Regions from separate parts of the Homo sapiens genome. Here region 1 is linked to region 2. A link means that fine-mapping ties the variant in region 2 to the expression of a gene that starts in the linked region. Tissue or cell type: subcutaneous fat. Region 2 holds a variant in brackets; the other region holds the start of a gene. All regions are shown on one strand. Distances are from middle to middle.

Evidence for each region. PIP is the estimated chance that this variant, and not a neighbour inherited with it, causes the effect.
Region 1: it holds the start of LHX4, and the variant in region 2 is fine-mapped to the expression of LHX4 in subcutaneous fat (GTEx, PIP above 0.99). The same link has a PIP of 0.9 or more in fibroblasts.

The regions. Positions count from the first base shown.
Region 1 is chr1:180,226,703-180,234,877 of GRCh38, reverse strand. LHX4 (LIM homeobox 4) reads right to left here and starts at 4,614. Exons shown (of 6, transcript NM_033343.4): 1 at 4,273-4,614. The coding sequence starts at 4,348. RefSeq lists a silencer at 5,044-5,173.
Region 2 is chr1:180,266,542-180,274,716 of GRCh38, reverse strand. It overlaps LHX4 (LIM homeobox 4), which reads right to left. Exons shown (of 6, transcript NM_033343.4): 3 at 8,123-8,175; 4 at 3,183-3,337; 5 at 2,711-2,882; 6 at 1-532. The coding sequence ends at 138. It overlaps LHX4-AS1 (LHX4 antisense RNA 1), which reads left to right and starts at 36. Exons shown (of 5, transcript NR_037642.1): 1 at 36-66; 2 at 605-780; 3 at 1,319-1,379; 4 at 2,025-2,104; 5 at 2,746-5,054. It also overlaps a transcript of ACBD6 not described here. RefSeq lists enhancers at 2,276-3,203, 5,729-6,023. The variant A/G (reference allele first, on the strand shown) is at 3,746.

The DNA of each region.
Region 1 (8,175 bases), 40 kb after region 2:
GCGAGGTCATGTGGGTCGCGCTCCCAGACCCTAGGACGCCACTCCTGCTCAGCCCTGCGTAGCCCCGCCTAGCTCTGGTTTTCCACGAGCCCGGACCTCGGCCAAGAGAGGAAATAAACTTGAGTTAGGTCCTGCTTCTTCTCAGTCCCGACTTTACGACTTCCCGGGACACTGCGGACTGCTCAATGCAGACCTTTGCCCCTCACCTGCTGCACCTGCGTGCTCCGTGTCCGGCTTTAACAGTTAATTCCGCATGCGGAGCGCACTGGGACAGCGGCTTTCCAAGCTTCCCTCCGTGCTAACGGCCCTCTCAGATAACAAGGCCCTGGAAAGGAGGAGGCCGGAGCCCTCTCGCCCCTTGGGAGTCCTCAGCCATCCGCTGTCCCAAGCGGGGCGCTGCCGCGCTTACCCGGGTTTCTCCAAACTCCCTTCTTTGTGGTACACAGCTCTGGCCAGGGGCTGGAACGGGATCCTAGCAGTTAGGACATCGGAACCCCCAACCCATCAGGCCCGAATCGGCCGGCGGGGACAGCTGACCTCATCTGTAAAAATTGTCTCCTGCCTGAGAATATATTCTCGCGACGCAGGGAGGGAGGTCTATGGTGCCTACAGCTGCTATATCGGAATGTTCGGAATATGATAGAATCTCAATCTATTATATATATATATATATATATATATATATATATATATATATATATATATATAATTTGTGTGTGTTGTGTGTGTCTGTTTCTCGCACTAGGAGACAAGGCAGGAATGGAAAGAAGAGCGAACAGCACCAGCGTTTGAGTGAACTCCTGTCTTGGACAGTGAATCCATCTCACCCCCTTAAGAAATGTCCTGCAAGAAGGACAGTCAACAACCCCGGGGACTCGGATCTGCAACTCGACCTGCGCTGGGACATTACCCCACGCACCCCGGAGGAGCCCCAGGAGAGGAAGTCCCAGGGAAAACCTTTACCCCGACCCTACCAAACACAAAATAAAATACCTTTTTCCTACAGCTTCGGGGTTCGCCAGAGCTTGCCGGAAGCATTTTAGGAGACAAGGAGGGGGACAGAGACCCCCAGGCCTGCATTCCAATTACCACCCCCAGCGGAGACCCCGCGGGGCTCCTCCTTCTCCCGTGCGGGCTGCCCTCTCTCCCGCCAGCGATCCGGGCGGCGGGCTTCCGTCGTCCTTTCCCTCGGTGCCTGGGGAGACTACATGGCAGATGGGTCAAAACCGAGGCGGATAAAACGCCCCACCTTCCTATATGCCTCGCTCTTTTCCGCGTCTCCTCAGAGGGCATGGCCGGCCAGCAGGGCCCCGACGCGTGGAGGGACTGCTGAGGTCCGCGGGGAGAGTTTTGGAGGCGGCTCGGAAGGCTCTCGCCGTACCCGTACCCAACACGGCCCCGGGTCAGGCGCTGTGAGGATTCGGATCTCGACGTCCCTACAGCCCGGAGGGAGGTGGCGGGGACGAGCTGTCGGTGCGGGCCGTAGGGACAGCTGTAGGGCTGTCGGAGCGACGAGGCCCGCACCGGGGGCCGCGCGACCAAGGCGCGGTAAAAAACCAGGAGGGCTACGGCGCGAACTGCTAAGTCCGCACGGGAGCCTGCGGGGGCGGGAGGCCGGGACAGAGTGGCGAGGAAGAGGCCAAGTCTGGAGCAAGACCAGAGATGAGAGAGAAATTATTACATCATTTGGAAACGTTTTCCTAAAGGGTATGCCCCTCACCCATCCCCAAATAAGCAAAGGAATAGTCCAGCTGCCGCCGAAATAAGCTGGATTTAAATCACTTCTTCTAAAATGCCCCTAGAGGGGAGGGCACTAGAGGCACCGAGCTTGGGGACACCTAGACCTGCGTCCCCAAGTGCTCCATTCGTGGTGACTCCATGTGATGAAGAGGCAAACATGTCTGTGTTGAGAGGGAAACCCTTCTAGTTGGCGACTGGAGGGACCCCTGTGGGAGAGCGTTTCTTTTGTCTCCCCTCCTCTAGGGTTTAAGAGCCTACTGTCCCGGAAGGCCCAAGGGTGTGCCCCACAACCCCTCGAGCTTCCCCCCTTCTTAGGCCACTGGGCCCAGTCCCAAGAAAACTAATAGTTGTGTATATGTGGGTGATGGGGACCTATCCCGCGGTCCCAGCACCAACAGCCTAACAGCCAGAGGCCAGATGTGCTGCAAGGGAGGCTACAATCCATTCACATTCCAAGAGGAAATAAAAGCTGGATCCAGAAGTCTTCAGGGAGTGGGCCCCTCAATTTTGGCCGATGCCTCCTCCAACCAAGGTCACGAAACTCGGACAAAGGGAGGACTGACCACCCCCTCTAGATTAGACATTGCCTCCCTGGGCCACCCTGGGGGGGTGGGTGTGGAAGTTCCTTTGTACACCTCAAGTTTTCCACAGTGTGAACCTAGACTCAGCCTTGGCAAACTGTAGCTCTGAAGGTGAGTTCTGGGCATTTTAGCAAAGCGACTCCCTGACGTCGAACATCAAAGTTGTCTCTGAACAGGGAAGGCAAAAAGTGAGACAATCAGAGTGTCACTCATCACAAGAAAGGCCGTCAGAGCAGAGACCATCGTCCTTCATTGGGGTCCCAACAGACAGGTCACCTACGGACCACAGCCATGAAAGCACAGACGTACTGGGTACCAAGGACACTAGTAACACACACACACCCTTCCCCCACTCATGCAGTCTCCTCACTCGCGCAGAGCTACAAGCAGCTTAAGGACTCGGTGCACCTTTGCAGGGTTTCTGTTTCCGTCTTTGCAGGGGCTGAGAACCCACTCTGTCCCTGCCTGTGTGCGGGGTGTGGGGCGTAGTGAATCTCCAATGCCTTCTATGAAAACATCTTAGCGGTAAACTCCCCAAGGCTCAACACAGACGTGGAACTGATTGCCGGCAGTTGACACGAAAACACTCAAAGAATAACTGTAGAATACAGCCAAGAAACAATCTAAATAGGCTTGGATGAAGCTATTCTTTTCTAGTCCCTTCTCAAAAACTTCCCAGGGAAGCCTACGGTACGCCTGCCCTCCGAAGGATCGCCGGACAGAAACCCTGCCATGGAAACCCGAGGCGCAGGAGGGCGCGCTCGTGCGCCCTAGTTTGTAGGTAGTCACCATCCCTGGATGAGCCGGCCCTTACTTAAAGTAAACCCCGAAGATGTAGCTACCGCACCACTAAAGAAGTCGCAGGCGGAAGTACAACCCCTTGGCAAGCGGAGCGAGGAACTCCTTGGTCTCTCCAGGGTGCCCGGGGCGCCCTGCTGAGCGTGCAAGCCACAGGGGCAGGACTCTCCCGGCGCTTGTCGCGCGCGCGCGCGCGCGCGCGCGACGACTGGGCACCTGTTCTGGCCTCTGCACAGATTCCCTCTCGGGGACTCTCGCTCAGGAGTGAAGCACAGAGACGGATTCCCTTCGGGAAAATCTCTGCGCGCGCACACCCATACACACAGAGAGAGACTTGGGGATAAACACGCCGCGAGCTCCGGCTGTCTCGCTAATTTCGGGCGCGGGAAGAAAGCGGGCGGGCAGGCTAGCAAAGCTCCCACACACCCCCGTCTCTACCCCTCCAAACCCGAGCCACCCTGAGCACCTGCCCTCGCGTGCGCAAAGGCTGAACCCGGAATTCACAACTTGCGGTCGCTTCTCCCTCCCCTGCATTCCTAGGCTAGCTGGAATGCGCGAGCAGATTCCCTCACAAGGAGCAGTCAGTTTCCCGCGGCGCACGCGGCGGGCGCCGCGGGCAGTAGCGGCTGGGGACTCACCCGGCACGCACGCCCGGGGCGCGGGCCGCAGGGACTAAGAGTGTGGCCGGGGCTTCTCCGCCGCCAGCCCCAGGGGCGAGAGACGCGCTCTCCAACTTCCCGCCAGCTGGGGTGAAGTTGCACTAGCGGTCCTGCAAGCGCTGACCGTCACGCCGGCGAAAGAAGATTTGTGGGGACCACCCTCGCCCTCAGGCCTGGCCTACAGCTCGTACCCCTGGGTGTCCCCAAACAGCACTCTCCCCAGCGTTCCAAGAAAAGCCTTGGGCTGGAGATGCGGGGTTCGGTACTCGGCTCGCCTCAAGCATGATCCAGGAGGCGTTCACATTCGGCCCCAAACAGCCAAGAGCCTGGCCCCCTCAAACGCACTCTGGCTGGTGCCCCTGCCCTGTGACCGCCTCTGCGCCCCGGCCGCCAGCCCCTCCCGGCCCCTGAGCGGCGTCCGGCCCGCCCCGCAGCGGCTGAGGCTGCTAGCTGTCTTGTTAGAATTAAATCAGCGAGAAAGGGGGGTGTCTTACGTTGCATCGGCACACCTAGCATCTCCGGGAGCCCCTTGACAGCCCCTTCCGCGGGGACAGTCGCACTCTGCATCATCTCGGAGCGAAAGCCAGCGAGTCGCAGTCTACGGAGATCTCTCGCTCTCTCGCTCTAGCTCGATTCAGAAATTTCAAAATAATAATTAAAACCCCAAGCAGGCCGCTGGAGTCACGGTGGAAGCCGGGCCCTCCGCTTCTCAGGGAGGACTCCACAGGCTGGCCGGCCCCCTCCCCCCGCCAGTCCCCAGTCTGTTTCCAGTCCCTTTGATCTCGCTCTCCGGGGTTGGTGCACATCCCAGGTTGAGACGCTGTTGCTGCAGCTCTGGCTTTTTTCCTCTTCCCTCCCCCGCCCGCTCCTTCCCCCTCCCCCTCCACCCTTCGCGTGCCGGCCGCCCGGGAGGCCGCGGTCACCCGGGCGTTTTGATTCATTCACACTGCAGGAGCGGCCGTGACGTCGCTTTCCGCAGGGAGGCCCGCCCTTCGGCACATCCCCCAACCCGGCGGCGGGCAGCCGACCCCGGAGGGAGTGGGGGTCCCGGCGCCCCGAGTGAGGCCGGCGGGGCGGAGGGGGGCGGGGCGGCAGGGAGCGGGGCGGGGCCTCGCAAGCCGGCACCCCCCCCCCCTCCCCGCCTCCGCCTCCGCCTCCGCCCAGCCGTGGCGGGCTCGCGCCCTGGGTATAAATTCTGCTGATGGCCTGCCGCGGCAGCAGGTGGTCGGAGACGGCGGCGCCCTGGGTTTGCGGGTCTTCGTGGGTTCCAAGCCCGCGCGGCTCGTGTCCTCCTCACTCCTCCGTTCGGACCCAGGGGCGGGGCGGAGCCGAGCCGGGGCCGAGCGGGGCAGGCGGTCCGGAGGCCGGGGACGGGGCTGCGTCGCTGTGTCTTCGCCTTGCGCGCTCTCGGTCCCCGGCTTCGCTCCGCCGGACGGAGCGCGCTCCGTAACCGATGACTCCATCTATCTTCCTCCTCCTCTTTCCCCTGGCCAATTCCTTTCCTGCCGGCACTTCCCAGCCCCTGCTCTCTCTCCCCCGCGTCTGGCTGAGGCTGGGCCAAGGGACAGCCCGTACTCGGCCCGGAACGCGCGAGTCACGCGGCGGGCGGCGCCGGCCCGGGCTGGGGAAGGGGACCAGGGGCTGTGCGCGGAGGTGGCGGGACGCAGGCCCCCCGCGCGCGTCCCCGCAGACCGCGGCCTGCAGCCGGAGTCCGCACTTGCCTCCAGTTCCGCAGGGTAGGGGGCCCAAACCTCCCCGCGGCGGGGCCTCCCCGGCCGCCCTGCCACCAGTCGTCCAGCTCGGCCCTGTCTTAGGTCCCTAGAGCCCGCTCTGCCTCTCCGGCTGCCACCGCGGGTGCTTTGAACCATCCGCGACCTCGTGCGTGCAGGGCGGCAGTGAGCACACGGACGCCGGGGTTAACCAGCGAAAGGGCTTGCCATGCTTACTGTATTTACGAGATGCATGGACAGGTAGAGAAACGCTTAAAACAAATTCTCCTCAACGCGAGTTTCTGGCAGAAATACAACAGAAGGCCCAACGCTGGGACGAGGTCTCCTCTGACGCTCCATCAGGCGCTCGACGCCTCCGGGCTGCAGGCGCGGGAAGCCCACCCCGTCTGCCCCAAGACCCAGCCGCTCTCCTGCCCCCAGCCCCCACGGCATTTCCTTCCAGAAATGCAGACATACGTGTCCTTCCAGCCTAGTGGGGTTCAGCTTAGGCGGGAAGGGGGACTGTGTGCCCTCCCCAGCCTTCCAGAACCTTCCCTGCTGTTTCCCCTGGTGTCATCTCCAAACAAGGGACACCTGCTCACCTTTAAGGGAGGAGCATGGGGCGGGGGAGAATGGCCTGGTCGTCTGCGCTGCTTAGAATTTGTCTCCAATGAGGTCACAGTGACTTTTGTGTGTCCTGGTACTGGGTTGGCATCATCTCTTCCCTTGTTTACCTGCGAGGTGACTCCGCGCGCGAGACAATATACACAAGAAGAAAAAAGCAAAAGAACCCAGTGACATTTTTAGTGTTTACCAAAATGTGTTCTATAGAAATATAACTAGTAAGCAAACACGGGGAAACGCCAGCCTCATTTGCAGTGAAAAACACGCAAGACAAAACAACACGTGCACAGCTTTTTCTGTTTGTGAGATGCCCGACGCGCGGGAGGGGCATCCTAGAGTTCAGGACTGGCGAAAGGGGCTTGGACACTCACCAATACTGCTGGGTGCTTATAAACTCTTAACATCCGTTTGGAAAGAAATTTGGCAATATGTATCAAACTCATAAATTTTTCATACCCTTTAGTTTATGTAGTACTTTTGAATGTCTGTTCCACGGAAATAATCTAGAATTTTTTATAAAAGTTTCATGCGTGAAAATGTTTATTACAGTATTATGTTTTGGAGAAAAATAACCTAAATAGCCAACAAAAGAAAAGTGGCTTAGGGAAGTAGATTAAATTGTTTGGTAGTATGTTATGGAATCATGGAAACCAATTATGAAACCCAATAACATGGGGATGCTTGTGAAATACTATTTTTTTTAAAAGCACAATGCAATAGCATAGGATTATAAATATGTAAAAATCTTAGTCAAATGTAAGGGCAATGATAATACCCATTGTTGGTTAGGCTGTGGGGAAATTAGAAAACAATTTCCTAGTGGGGATTGCAAAGAGGGGAAATGTCTTCTCAGGACGTTTTGGCTACAAATGTGATGCATTTGACCCAATCTCTATAGAAATTTATCCAAAGAAAATAATCAAGAATGTTTGTGAAGATGTAGTTACAAGGATGTTTATAAGGTTTTTAAAAGGGAAAACCTAAATATCCAACAATAGGGGATAGTAAATAAGTTACAGTAAATTATTAAGTAAAATGGAATGTTATGAAGTCTTAGAAATAATACAACAGAAGAATATTTAATGTAGAAAAGGGTTTGAGATTTATTAGGAAATGTGAAAAAAGAATATGAAGCGGTATGAACTTCAGGAACTTTTCTTAAAAAAAGCATAAACACTGTACACTTAAAAATGGTAAAGATGGTAAATTATATGTATATTTTACCTCAATAAAAAATTGTTTAGGAGGAGTAAAAAAAATGCCAAAGTGTAAAAGTGGTTATCTGTGCAGTGGATATTTTATTTTATTCTCTTCGCTTTTTTCAGTTTTCTCAATGAGCACATTATTTTATAAAGCAGAAAAAAACTAATAAAATGCTTTTTAAAATATTAGGGAAAAGGTAAGGAAAGATACCAAAATACTATTCAAAAGAATATTTGGAAAAAGGTATATTAGGGAGATGTATTATGGAATTTTTTCCTTTTTCTCTTTTCCAGATTTTCTGTAAAGTGATTATTTTTCAGTAACATTAGTAAAAGATAACATTCAAATGCAGTGAATGTAAAGCATATATAGTAATTACTTTTATAATTTAAAATTATATTTTAAAAATGCTCTCTGCAGCTCCTGCTTCTCTGATTTGAACCTGCTGGGGTCCTGCCCTTTTCCCATTGCATGTCACTAGCCTGTCAGTAGGTGAGGAACAGCCTTACTGTGGTGGGGACTTATCTCTGCCCAAGACTGATTCAGGGGATACCACTTTCACCTGTGTCGTTTGGCAGACAAGCCCAGGAAAGTCAGCTTAGCTCTCAGTTCTTGCACCTGTAAGCAGCAGCTCCAACATACCTTGCACCCCCATGCCCACACACACAGTGCAGCTCAGCCAATAAATGCCCTTTCCACATTCTGAGGCTTTTTTTTCTTTCTTTCTTTTTTTTTTTTTTTGAGACGGAGTCTCGCTCTGTCGCCCAAGCTGGAGTGCAGTGGCGTGATCTCAGCCCACTGCAAGCTCCACCTCCTCCCGGGTTCACGCTATTCTGCCTCAGCCTCCCGAGCAGCTGGGAT
Region 2 (8,175 bases):
AATCAGCGGAGGACTTCCATTGAAAATAATGGAAATTCACATTGGCGTACTTTCGATCCTTAAAAGGCAAGTCTCTTTTGATCCTTGAAGATATTCTCTCAAGCCAGGGGGGCAGGTAGGGTGGGGAGGAGAGAAGTTTAAAAAGGAGGATGATCCATTTCATCGAGCCAAGAGCCTGGGCTAGTTGGAAAGTCGGGATAGCCTACACTGCTTCCTGTGGAGATGTCAGAGGTGGGTCCCCCAGCCATGGCTCTCAGCGTCTGGCTTACTCCCTGCCCTGCATGCGCAATGATGCCCAAATTACTGTCCACCGTGTAATCCAGCCCATTGAGCAAAGGAGCGTGGGATGGCAGGGACGATATGGAGGATGGAGACTGGGGGATTCCATAGGGGCTCCCATCCCTCAAGTCCTGATAGGATTGTCCTGTCCCGTCCATGGAGAAGCTCCCATTCATTAACTGTCCGCCTGTAACGTCCCCCACGTTGCCATAAATCCTATTGGTGTGGCCAAGTTCTGAGAGAATTTGATCCTCTGTGGACAAAAGAACGGAGATTTATTGTCAGCTGCCAGGACTCTGATGGTCCCCTGCTCTTCACAACCTAGGAACACACATGACCAGGAAAGATGCCCAAGGATGGCAGCTGCCTTGCAGCCAAGCATGGGTCAGACACACCAATATGGCAGCCTGATATCCAGAGGCCAACCCAGGCCAAGGAGAAAAACAAGAAACACCTGCAAAGACTAAATTCCCAGGTCCCAGAAGGATGGACAAATGTTTGGTGAGCTCGTTGGTCCCTTGTGGCTCGTGTACTAATACTCTGGCTACACTGAGGAGGATGAATGCCTAAGGCTGGGTGGGTCAGATGTCTCCACATCACAAATGGAAACTACATGCTGACAACATTTACCCTGAAAGCTTTCAAGCTGAGAAAGGGCTTGGTTTAGTTGATTGGGAAGCAAGCAGGCCCATATGGTCAGGGAAGCTGAGGACCACTCTTAGACATCTGTACAAAATCCTTCTGGTCTATCTGGAAGAGAGGTTCAATATCAAAGGACTTGGTTTCTGTCTGTATTCAATAAGCTCTTCACTGGGGACAAAGAATTGACTTGATTAAGGCAAATGAACCTTCTTTTTTCTTAAAGAATTTCATTAAGGGGATCTAATGGAATCTTTGCCACTTGAAAGAATTTCTCTCTCCAACAGAGGTGAGCAGTTTTAGTCTTTGAGAAATTATTCCCAGAGAAACCAATGATAGGTCAGCCCAGGGACCCACCTGCACCCAACAGAAATGAGCTTAACAATCCAGTATGTTCTAGGTGTTGACTTCAACAGCCCAGATGAGATTGACTTTCCCAATCCTGCCAAGAAGCCTAAAAGGTGAGTATTAGTCCCATGAGCTGTCCCCAAGGCCTCACGGGCCCTGTGTTCTCAGAGGAGGCTGCCCTCTAGGGCTCAGCTGACCTCTGGGCTGAACTAGAGTCCTCCCAGGGCATCGTTGTCCTGGCAGGCAACTTGTTCCATCCTCTGTCCCACAAACTTCCTTTTCTATTTCCACCTGGGCCTCTGCACCAATCCCTAAATAAGGCCTCCCCAGACTAGACTTCAACACCCCATCCCTTCTGAGGCCTGCCCCCCATTCCCCTTATGAAAAAACATGGTGGGGGGAGCTCATGCTCTTTAAAGGGAGCAGGAAGATGAAGGCTCCACTCCATTGTCAAATGGCCATGAGTTAGCCTTTTCCCTATACCTGTCATCCCAAATGACCAGGGCCCTCTGCGGGAGCCACACGCTCCCTGTGGGAACGATCATGCCTTCCAGGTATACAAATGTGCCAGGCTTTCCCCAAGCACATCCACAGTTGGTTGTGTTCATTGATCCCCACAACGCAGTGAGATGGGCAAAGATATGGTATTCCTCTTGGGAATACTGGGGCTCAAGAGAAGTGAATCGATTTGACAGAGCTGCACTGGAAACCAGGTCTCTGATCGCCAGTTGAGTACTCTTCCCTTTCCCCCTCCGCAGAAGACCTTCCACATTTGAGAACTCAGTACCTGAGAACAGTTATGATTCTTTGCAAACAACCTGAGGATTCATAACATGCAGTAATTTACAATTTTGCTGATGCATGAATTTGAATATAGTGCATGCTGCAAAGCTTGTGTGCAGGGGACAGAATGAAGTGAGTGGTGGGGAAAGGGATTTCGGAAGTGAAGCCAGTTCCCCATCTCACATGCACTCACAGTACTGATTTCCCAGGAAAAAACCTGTGGAGCATGACCTCCCCACCACCAGGACTGGAGGAAGGGGTGGCTCTAGGGGACTATGGGAGTAGGCCAGTGTCCCAGCAAAGGGGACAAAGATGGGAGAGGGGCTAGGGGCACAAGGCTGGAACCCAGTCATCTGTTCATAGCTGTGTGGGCTGATGAGGGAGGCCCCAGTCAGCAGGAGGGGAGGGGAGACCTTGGGGCCACAGGACGGGGCCTGGCCCATCCCAGCTTCCAGACCTCAGCAATCTTGTTTCCTACTCCTGTCCCATGGTAAAGGGCCACTACCATTTCCCCCACCCTTCACTGCAAGTCTTAAGGAAAAGCCTGTGTTCAGGAGGGAGTTGCCAAGGCCTCAAGAAAGATCCCTCCTGAGTGCCAGGGATTACAGATTCCCAGGGGACTTTCCTAAGGCCTCGGCCTGGCCCCTCCAGCCCTGCTCACCTCGGAAGCTCAGCTCACTGTCACTAACCCCACAGTCCTCTGCAGAGCTCTCCTTCTCCTGCTTGCTGCTGCCCCGGCTCCTCTTGACGCTCTTATAGAACTGCCCCCAGCGGTGCCGCCCTGCATCCTTCTTCAGGCGTTTCTCTTTGGCCCTTCTGTTCTGAAACCAAACCTGCCACACAAGCACAAGGGACATACTCAGGGGGCGTCCACCACAAACCCAAAGCCCCCAGGACCCCCTAGGCGGGCGGCTGGAAGCAGACTGAAGCCTGAATGGAGCACAGGTCTGGGAGTGCGATGCGCCCCACCCCCTCTCCCCAGGTGGGCCTCAGAACTCTGTCTTCAGTTCTGGCAAAAGCCCTGGGGTCAAGCCCTGAGCCCAACCACCCGTGAGCTGATGTCACTCAGGATACCTTCCACCCCTGTCCCGGGCCTGGGATCCCCGGAGGGCACAGGAGTGCTGGCATCTCACCTGTACGACCCTCATGTCCAGGCCTGTCTCTGAGGACAGCTGCTCCCTCACGTGCCGGGCAGGCTTGGGGGAGTTCTTGTATGCATTCTTTAATGTCTCCAGCTGCTTGGCTGTGATGGTGGTCCGGGGCCGCTTAGCTCCAGCCTCTGAGTCATCTGCAAGGAAAAACCACTGCTTACTGGCTTCGGCCTATCTGCAGCAGCTGCGCCTCCTCCCACACCCTCCCTTCCATCCTTTCTGCACCTAAGCCTGCCTGCTGTAGGCAGGACAGCGCGAGGCACAGGGGACATCAGAGTGGAGAGGTCCCCACTCTCATGGCACTGACTCCTGCACCACGGGCCTTCCCAAGCCACTGAAAAGTGAGGACAGCAGTCCTTTCTCTGCTCAGCTCCCTGCCTCAACCCTCCCCTGCCAGCCCAGCTGCACAGAAGTCTCATCAGATTGAATGTACCCAATTCCACACGTCCCTGTCATGACAAACACTCTGCTCACACATCCTCATGAGTTCTTGCCAGAGCTGTGAAGGTGAACAGCCAGGTTGAAGTCATGTTCAAAGTCGCCCC[A/G]GATGCCCTCCCCTCTGTCTCATCAGGAGTCTCCCATTTCCCCACAGCCATGTCACCTTTGCCCTGGCGTCGCTGGGCTCACAGCCAGGGGTGAGCTTGCACACCCAACAGTGTCTAAGCAGGTTTCTAAACTATAGGTCAGAACCCACTCGTGGGCTGTAAAGTCACCTTAGTGGATCAAAACTAAAACAGGAAATCAGATGAAGAGAATGGGATGGAATGGCAAGATCATTTCATTAAACTTTAGTTTTTATTGTATAAATATGTGTACTGAGATGAAATGTAAAATGAGTTTTACTGTGGATTGTAGTCAAAATTTTTTGAGAAAACTAGTCTAAGGAATGTTCTGGGCAACACACTGACTGATCAACACAAAGTCCTAGACAGATTTTGAGTGAACAAGCTCAAGTTCCTGTTAGTTAAAGTCTGGTTTGTTCCATTCAAAGTCAGGTACAGAGAGAGGCGCGTGCGTGTGTTCGGAAGCACAGGTGAATGTAAAGGTTTGTTTCCTCTCCCAGCACTTAGGCATACTGCCCTTTTCTCCACAGTGCCCCTGGAGGACACACGGAATAAAGTCAGCAGCTGGCCTGGGCAGCTCTGCTCTCTGTGCTTGCTCACCTGTGTGCCCCAGAAGGTGTCTCTGTGACATTCCTGACTTCCTCTCTGTCTTTTCTCCTTTCTTTCCATTCAAGAAAACCCTCTCTTAGAAACAATAGTAGCCAACATGTGTTAGCACCTACCATGTGCTGGTGTTGACTAAGGACTTTATATGCATTCGGTCCTCACAATCTACAAGGCTCTCCCTGGAGTCAGCAGACCTGGCTTCAGTGTTCTTGATGAGTGAGTGACTTGGGCCAGTAACTCACTTCCCCCTTGGAAGTCCAGAGGGCAACACGGCCTGCCCTGATCTTGGGAGGCACTAGAGGAATGAAGCAGCTGTGCAGCCAGGACATGTGTGTACACAGTGAGGGGGGACACACCCGTGCCTTCCCTTCTCCTCGGGCTGTTTTCTTCTCTCACGTGGCCACTGTCATCCCGGAACTACTGTGGCCCAACTCCCTCCCTGAAGCCCTGAACCCGAAGGGTAGGGATTCCGGAGCCCCTGCCACAGAGACTACACTACTTAGAGAGTCATTCCAAAAGACAAAGGGGAACCTCCAAAATGCCTTCCTTTTCATTCTGAGGAGTCTGTCCCTTCTGTGCATATTTATAGTCTACACGGGAGTGTCTGATGCAACTTTGAATTATGCAAATGGGAAATAGTGCACTTGTGTACAATCTTTATATTAAAAAATGTGAAATAATGCAATCACCAAAAATGTTTTAATTTCTCGAGAATCACTTAATTTCAAAATAGCTTGGCCTACGGAATTATAAATTCTTTTCACCACAGCCAGATGGTAGCGCCACTGGGATAGACCCGTCATCCTGGTTGGTGGCCCGCTGGTTCGGCACTGCTACACACACAGGATTTTCTTCTTGCAATGATGGGGACTAATATGCTGTTATTTTAACATTCACTGTTATTATAATTTAAAATCTTTTTTATATCCCATAACAATGTCATCCAAGTATTCATTAAGTAGCAGTGGCAGTGCTCGTGCTGAAAAATGTACCCAAAAATCAATAACTTTGGTACGGAAGTTAAATGTGACAAAACGCTATGAGGAAGGCCAAGGGAGCCCATGATACCCTGGGCTGTTAATTTAGGAGAGAGCGTTCTGCAAGGTATTCAAGATAATGCTGAGAAAATAAAAAGTAGCATTAAGGCAAAGATACACTTCACTGGTTATGGATTTATGTGCTCTCAGAATATACCACCCCCCCCCCCACACACTCTACATTAATTCCTACAGGAAAATTAGTCTTAAAATATGTTAGTTTTGAATGATGCAGGGTCTCCTAGAACTTGTCCCTGGCATAAAACGCAACCTCATTATATTGAAAATGCAAATATCCAGGGAGACGGAACAAGTGAACAAAATCATTCACACTAAGGTGCAAGTAACTGCTCTGAGATCCTTTGTTTAGCTAATGGGAGGGAACTGTAAGCCTGCAGGAGGGCTGAGAGTAGCAAGGAGGAATTAAAACAACCTGAAAAGACAGCCAGGCATTCTGCAGTGGACAGAACTCCCCGCTGCTCCAAGGATCACCGATTGCCCAGGACAGAGGAGCCCTGCCTTGCTCACAGCCAGGGTGGGGTCAGGAAAGGACCCGGGGAACAGGCCAGAAATACTGTGTAACATTCCGCTGCTTTAAAACCTCAAGCACACCTCACCTCCCTGTTTGCACTTCTCCTCCACGTCAGTCTCTTATTTCACATCCCATTTCACAAGCCTCATCCTATTTAAACCTCAGGAAAACAGCCCTACGTGGCAGATGCTATGATCCTCCATAGACAGCTGAGAAGCCGAGGGTCAGCCAGTTCTACAACTTGCCAGGAGATCTCCCTGTGTGGGGGGATGCCCAGCCAGCTTCTGACAGCAAGTCCGGCATCTTCCATCATCCTGCAGAGGTCTGCTGTGGTGCAAATATTCCTCGATAAAACTGTGAGCACCACAATGTCATTCCCACCTCCCCAGCCAGATTCTGACCAATCTACATCTGTTTCTCTTGTCTCTTGAACCACCCACAACATCAGGAGATGCTGAGCTGAGAGTGCTCAGAGTCCAAATGAGGCCTCTGATGAGAACCAGCTGCAGGCCGGGGAGGTCGTGCCATCTTAGTATCTCTGATGAACGGCACTAGACTTCCAAAGGTGTCTTGGTATCTCTGAGTCCATCTGCTGTGATGGTTCATCCCTGACAAGTTGCCCTAATCTCCCATGACATCACAATTGACTTCAAGGCAATAGCATGGAGTGAGTTTTAAGAAACCAGAGCAGATTAGTACATTGCAGGCAAAGAGCCTTGGGATGGGTTTGCAGAGGCCCCAGGTCTCTGGAGGAAGGAGGTCAAAGGCCTCTGTCCACCCTGAAAGGCCAGAGCTGTGGGGGTGGTGGGAGGGAAGGTCCTCAAAGAGACAGGAAGCCCTGCCCACTCCTGCCATGGACCAAAGCCAAACCCAGCTCCAGCTGGCTCACCTAAAGGGCCCTTATGAATCCCCTCTGCTTCCTCACCACCACAATCCCCTTATTTTATACTGTGTTCAATGAACAAAAAACCAGTTTCTCCATTATTGATGAGATCTGTATAATATGTGTGTGGGCCCAGAAAAGATCTAGAAGGAGATACATAAAATTGTTGTTAATTTTTTTTCTCATCAAGCCCAGAGCTGTCAACAAGAGCCGTTTTTGCACAGTAACACCCTGAGTTGATCAAAATTCTAGTCAAAGGCCAAGGAACTTGATGTTTTGTGCGTTCACACCTCTGAGGTTATCATGTTGGGTTTGGCCAAATCCCAAATTCAGAGCCAGGGCCTGACCCCACGACCATGTGGGTGCATCTGGGAGTGAGAAGCCAGAGGTAGGGCTGCAGGAATAAAAGTGTCCACCTTGGCTTTGCGAGGGGAGCATGGGGAATGTGTTGTTCTGGGCTCTACGCTGGAAAGTCCCCGGGCTGCCCAAGCGCATGGCATGTAGGGCGAGAGCCGCTGCCGCCAGGCCAAGCTAGGCCTTTCCAGGCGTGGCTGCTAAATGCGGGACCTGACTTCGGCCTCCACCATGCAGAGCTCCTGCTGCCACCGTGGGCAGTGGCCCTGCAGTGGTTGTGGTGAAGGGGGTGGGGGCAGCTATATTGAAGTGGGTGGAGGGAGCTATATTGCTGAGACGGAGCCTCCCTGAATCTGGCATGTGTCCTGCCTCTTCTTTTAGCACTCACTGGGCACTTGCAGAAACTCCAGGAGGCCCTGCCCTAGAGGAGCCCACAGTCTGCGAGGCGAACAGAACACAATTAACAGACAGATGTATGAAGTGTGCAGAGGCCAGTGCTGGGCTCTCACCGACGGCCTTTGAGGCAGGGGCTGCTGAGAGGTCCATGTGCACCCTGATGTGCAAAACTAAGCGGCAGCCCCACGTGTCCAATACAGACCAAGCTCCCAGCCACCCCTCAGCACCCCAGCCTCCACCCAGGGAAGGAGGCCACCACCATGGTAACAACCAGGTTCTTGGCTGCTTCTGAGCCTACCATGGAGACAGGCAGGCTCTCAGGAACCATGGCTGGATGAACACTTCCATGAAGCCGGCGAGTGCTAACGGCCGGGGAGGTGTTCAGCATTTACTCTCAGTGTGGAGATCTGGGACGCTTCTCAGAGGTGGCGGTGCATGAGTAGGGCTCTGAGGGATGGGCAGGTGGGACGCCATGAGAAGGGCACCTCAGGCAGAGGGCGTGGCCCAAACAAAGGCCTGGAGAGGGGACCATGCGGGGCCATGCTGCTTACCGTTCTGCTTGGCTGTCTCGTAGTCTTCCTTGCACACCAGCCGCCCGTCCTCC